Linked DNA regions of Homo sapiens: region 1 is linked to region 2. The links come from fine-mapping of genetic effects on plasma protein levels. Region 2 holds a variant in brackets. A gene starts in the other region. All regions are shown on their reverse strands.

Region 1 (2,841 bases), not on the chromosome of region 2:
CTGCAGGAAGATGGGGCTGAGATGCCTGGCGCAGGTGAGTCTGGGTGGTGGGCGGGAAGGGGCCAGATTATGGCGGGAGGGAGGAGAGCACTTGAAGCTTGCTTGGAACCCCAGCCATGGAAGGGAGGCTCAGAGAAGATAAGCCCAAGGCCTGGAGCCTCTGCCCCATCCTCCCTGCACCCAAAGGTCCTTACCATGCCAGCTGTCAGGTTGATGCTCCATACCATGCTGCCATTGCAGAGCGGAGCCTGTGGGAGCAAAGTGACAGTGAGCAGAGTGCTGGCAGGGGTTGTGGGCCTGCCCTGGCAGCCCAGGCCAGGTCTGCCCCAGCACAGGCCCCACAAGCATCCCTGGTGTGGCACAGAGGCAGGCCTGGCAGCCCCTCAGCATTCCTGAGCTTCGTTTTCTGCTTTGAACAGCAGGCATAGGGGTGAGGTCCCACTGTTTAGGGTCTTGGAGCTGAGAGAAAAAAATTGACACCACTAGTAAGGGACAAGCTGCATGCAAGGCTTGCCATAGTCAGGGCAGGAGGACAGGGGCCTGCGGGAAGGGCCAGGGTGGGGACGAGTGAAGTAGGAGTGGCCTGGGCCACTGTTGACCAAGACAAATCAGATGGGAGGCGGTGGGGATCTGGTGTATTAAATGCCCTGCCTTCTGATGGTGAGGGAACACTGCAGTTAGGAGCATGGACACTCTGGTGTTGGCCAGGCCTGGCTTGAATCCAGCCTCTGTCACTTAACCTCACTGAACCTTAGCAGAATGGGTTCATCGTACCTGCCTCTTGAGGTGGCTGGCAGTGATGAAATGACACATAAAGCACGTGCACCAGGCCTGGTGTAAGCAGTGCTCAGACATGTGAGCTGTTACTAGTGGGGCAAGGAGCGGACTCTACTAAGGAATCCTCCTGTAAGGGCGGGCCTATGATGGTGCTGGGGAGAATGGCTGCATTGTTATGGTCAAAATCCAGTTGGCAAATGCCACATGGTTCTGGGAGGGTGCTGGCCCTTCTCTGCTGTCCTCTGTTCAGGAATGGCTGAGTAGGAGCTGGCAGTGGCAGACAAGGCCAGGCCAGGAGAGCAGGTAGTCCCTGGGGAGTCTGCCAGACACCTCCATAGGTCCATCCACAGTGCTGAGCCCCCCAGCCCAGCTCCTCTCTCCCTCATGGCTGGGCCGGGCCTTGGTCCATGGAGATTTTTCCTGACCTACAGGCATCTTAGGACCAGGCCCAGCCTGCTCATGACCTCATCTTGGGAATCACCCACCCTGGAGCCCTCATAGCTAGGACCCTGGCTAGCCGACACTCACCTTCTGGTTCTGGGTGATGTTGACCAGCTCCTCAATGAGCTCCCTGAGGGCTGTAGAGGGAGGCACAGGGCCTGGGGAGGCAAAGCCGCCAAGGCAAGTGAGAGCAATGACCGTGGTCAACAAAAGCGCCATGAGGCCCAGTGCCAACAGGAGAGGATTGAGGAGCGGATGCATAGGCTGGGTGGCTTGTGGCCTTGGCGTCTTGTGGCAGCTTTTATAGGCCCAAGTGGTGACGCCTGACACCATGGTCTCTGCTTTTTCAGGCACTATCTAGAAACCACATCTTTACTCATCTTGATTTTACTTTGTGGAAAATCCAGTGTCGCATAAAGGAAAGAGTTTGATTTCTCATGGACTTATTGAGAAGGGTCCAGGGCAGAGTTTCCAAGATCTGGGTGGGTTTAATTCCAGCGGCAGGCAAGGGGCCCTGAGAGCGGCGTGGCATTTGCAATGCTGCCCTGAGTTCCAGCAGTTTTGCCTGTGACAACCCTGAGTACCTGGACAGCTGACCCAACTCTGAGCTCCTGTCCTCAGACCCTTTTGGGTCACCAGAAGTGCTGAGCAGATAGTCTTAGTGCACTGTGGCTGTGACCACAGTCTACCAGCTATGGGAATTTGGGGAGTTTTATTTTTTCGATGAACCAGTCTCTTAAATTACTTAAGTAACACTTGCTTGGATACAAAATTCAAACAGGCAATAGAAGAGTAAAGTTCACTTCTTTTGGCTTGCCTAATTCCTCCTTGGCCCCACTGTGAGAGGGATTGTCAAAGTTCAGATTTCCAGGTCTCCACTGAGAGATCCAGAAAGATTCAGAGGTCTTTCTGGGAGCTTTTTTGGTGTTTTTTTGTTTTGTTTTGTTTTGTTTTTTTGGAGATGGGGTCTCACTATGTTGCCTGCCTAGGCTGGCCTCCAACTCCCAGACTCAAGCGATCCCCCCACCTCAGCTTCCAGAGTGGCTGGAAGTAGTGTGCACGTGTCTGGCCCCTTTAATTTAAAGTGTATGGGCCATCCTTCTGGGAAACTCTTAACTGGGCCAGGCTGGCAGCCTTAGTCCAGGTCAGAGATTGTAAGTGTTCCTAGTGCCACTGGGGCTTGGGGTGATCCCCTTTGCTCACCAGTCTCTGCAGGATCAACCCCTGCCGTCTGGGGGCCTCAAATTTCCCTTCTGCAGAATGAGTGCTGTGGAGGGCGGCTCCTGGGCTTGGCCCCTGCAGCCATGTCGCCTTTTCCTGCTCTTCCCTCGTTTTCCTAGAAGTCCTCCAGAAACCCCCACAGCAGAGGCCACGGCATTTGCCTGTTGGGTGTTGATGTCAAGATTTCTCCCCTACCCACTTCCTCCCCGAACCAGCGCCTCCCCAGGCCCCCTCTCTGCCTGCTCAGGCTCCCTCCGTCCTGTCCTCGATGGGGCTCAACCTCCTCACAAGGGTGTGCTTGTGACCCTCCTCACAAGGCATGCTGGATTCCCGCTCAGAGGCATCCCAGGCTTGCCCACCCTCTCTTCCCACAGGGAACGTCATTCCCACCCTCTCTGTCCA
Region 2 (2,924 bases):
CTGCTTTCAGTTTCCTATTGCTGGATGTTCTTTATTATAAAGGCATATTGGCAAATAACGACTAGAGTTTGTATTGAAAATTAACGCCAAAAAGTTTTTTAAAAAATTTTTCAAATAGAAAAGTTCTATCCTGCCTAGTTTAAAAAAATACAATGTTACTTTAATCAATGATTTAATAAAAATTTAAGTGATGTTTGTCTTATTAGTTATTCAATTTATTAATAACTGACTGATATTTAAAAAGTAAATACTGGCTGGGCGCAGTGGCTCACGCCTGTAATCTCAGCACTTTGGGAGGGTGAGGTGGGTGGATCACCTGAGGTCGGGAATTCGAGACCAGCCTGACCAACATGGAGAAACCCCCTCTCTACTAAAAATACAAAATTAGCTGGGCGTGGCGGGGAAGCTGAGGCAGGAGAATCGCTTGAACCTGGGAGGCGGAGGTTGCGGTGAGCCGAGAACACGCCATTGCACTCCAGCCTGGGCGACAAGACCAAAACTCTGTCTCAAAAAAAAAAAAAAGTAAATACCATTGTACACTTAAGTAATATATTTGGCAAGAATGGCATTTACATTCATTCAAAAATGAAACTGCAAATACGAGTTACATTCAATTAAATAATTAAAATAATATAGAAAAAAATGGGTGTGTTGTTTTGGTGTTTAATATACATTCATTTTTGCATGGACGGGTATATGTGTCATTGCTGGGCTGTTGTGTATGTGTGCGTGTGTGTGTGTGTCTGTGTGTACAACTATGAAGTTTAAAATATATTATTAAATTACGTAGTTATATTAATCCAAATTTATCATGTTAAAATATTAGGAAAAAAACACCAGTAGAGAAATTACAGAGAACATCAGCAATGCCTACAGCATTTACAAGAGTCACATTAATAACAAACAAACTAGTTCAAATGTTTAGATATGACACATGCAGTAGAAAACGTTCACATGGTATTAACACAAAAATGGTGCACAACTGAGGAAATTATAATACGTTCATGATATTGGCTACATAAATGCTTATGATAGTAATGCTTTTCATCCATCAAATGCTTATGATAATGCTTTTCATCCATCATATTATAGATGATAAAACAACTCTATAAACACTTCCATCACTAGCGTTTAATATGAGATGCCTCACATCTTTTTCTGAAATAAATAAACATCTGTCCACCACTTCGATGATCATTTCAGGATTATCCTCTGAAATAATTATCCATAATAATTTTAGTAACAAT[TTTA/A]TTATTTTCAGAAGCCTATTTTATAAGGTCTTTGAACTATTATTTTTATGATTGTTACTTTATATTTTACACACTTTTTATTTGGAATAATTATAGGTTATCAGAACAATTGTAAGGAAAATACAGTGTGTTCACATCCATCTCCAAGTTTTCACTAAAGTTAATATGTCAAAAAAAACATGGGACATGGGACTAATATATTTACATTGATAAGTTTCTGTTTATTCAGCTCTGGGATTTATTTGAATTTTGCCAATTTTTAACAGTTTCCTTTTTTCCTTTTTCTTTTCTTTTTGAGATAAGGTCTCACTTTCCTATTGCTTTTTGTTTGTTTCTTTGTTCAACCCAGGTAACCACATCAAATTCAGTCACCATGTTCCTCTCATATCTTCTGGTTAATCACAGTTTGGGTTCCTGCTGTCTTCCCATTGAATATTCTATAAATGAAACTAGTCAAATAAGTTGATTCTGGTCACTTATATATTTACCTATTTTATCACGTTTGTTTTGTCAATCACAGTAAGTGTCGAATTCGCTATCTGTTATAGATGTTAGCCTATTTTCTATCCCAGATCCATTGGTTAAATCTTTGGTGATGCCTTTTAGAAAACTGATCCCTTTACCCTATGTAATATGCCCCTTGATTCCTGAAAGTCTTATGTCTACCTTGTCTGAATTTAACATAGCTAAGCACGCTTTCTTTTCATTCATATTTTCATAGTCCATGTTTTCCTGTATTTAACTTTTCTATGTAGAGCAAATTTCTGTACAGAGCTAGTAGTTGGGTCTTGCTTTTTAAATCAACTATAATAAATTCTATTTTAAAACTGGTATTACTATTTTTCTGTTAATTTCTATTTTAATTTGGCATTTTATGATCATGTTTATTTCTCTATTAACTTATTGTTTAGCTCATCTTTTATGAATATTGTATTGGCCCTAAGATATACAATAAGAATTGTGTATAATCAGATTCTAATTCAAATAACGTAAAACCTCTTCATAGGTTGTAGAGCTATTATAACTTATTCTTCTAAACCCTCTTTCTCATCCGTTGTCTTAGTTTATTCTCAGTTTGCACTTATATGTGCTATAAAATATAATATGTGCATTTTTATCATTACATAGACATATATTAGAACAATTAAAAATATAAAAACTACATTTCAACTTCATTTTTTCATTCTTGACCACATTTTTTATTTGGATAGATTCATGTTTCGGATGTATATCATATGGCTACTCACCCTGGCGGAAAATTTGCCAAAGCACCTACTGAAGGATGAATGCACTAGCAATAAATTTTCTCAGAATCGATTTGTCTTACAGGGTATTCATTTGACTTTCGCTTTAAATGAAATTTTTAATATATATAGAATTCCAGTTTGACTTTAATTTGTAATTTATTTTCTTGTACTCATGTATTCATTATTTTCTTCCTGAAGATGGTAACACATTCCATTCTGCTGGGCCTTCATTATAGATATTTGTGTGTATCTATTCAGGGCTATATTTGCAATTTATGGATGCCACAATTATCAGAGTTGAAGTCAGCTTCTGCTGTCCACAGAGATTTCAAGTTCCTCCCATGATACTTGCTTTTGTGTCCCTGTTTGATCCTGGGTCTTTATATTTAGTTTTCCCCAGGGAGGCTGTCTGTTTCAGCTGTGGAAA

Which allele goes with the higher level. Alleles are on the strand shown, and positions count from the first base shown. The strength of an association depends on the size of the effect and on how common the allele is.
In carriers of allele TTTA in region 2, the plasma level of the protein whose gene starts at base 1,493 in region 1 tends to be lower than with A alone (strong association).

Evidence for each region. PIP is the chance, under the fine-mapping model, that this variant and not a neighbour inherited with it causes the effect. The UK Biobank Pharma Proteomics Project read protein levels with antibody pairs (Olink). The fine-mapping took linkage between variants from a reference panel, not from the people measured, so its PIPs are less certain.
Region 1: it holds the start of IL13, and the variant in region 2 is fine-mapped to the plasma level of the IL13 protein (UK Biobank, PIP above 0.99).

What each region holds. Positions count from the first base shown.
Region 1 is chr5:132,656,825-132,659,665 of GRCh38, reverse strand. IL13 (interleukin 13) reads right to left here and starts at 1,493. Exons shown (of 4, transcript NM_002188.3): 1 at 1,306-1,493; 2 at 195-248. The coding sequence starts at 1,479. RefSeq lists a silencer at 2,709-2,768.
Region 2 is chr14:105,995,564-105,998,487 of GRCh38, reverse strand. It overlaps IGH. Among named protein-coding and RNA genes, the nearest start is that of FAM30A, 79 kb to the right of the region's middle. The variant TTTA/A (reference allele first, on the strand shown) is at 1,248.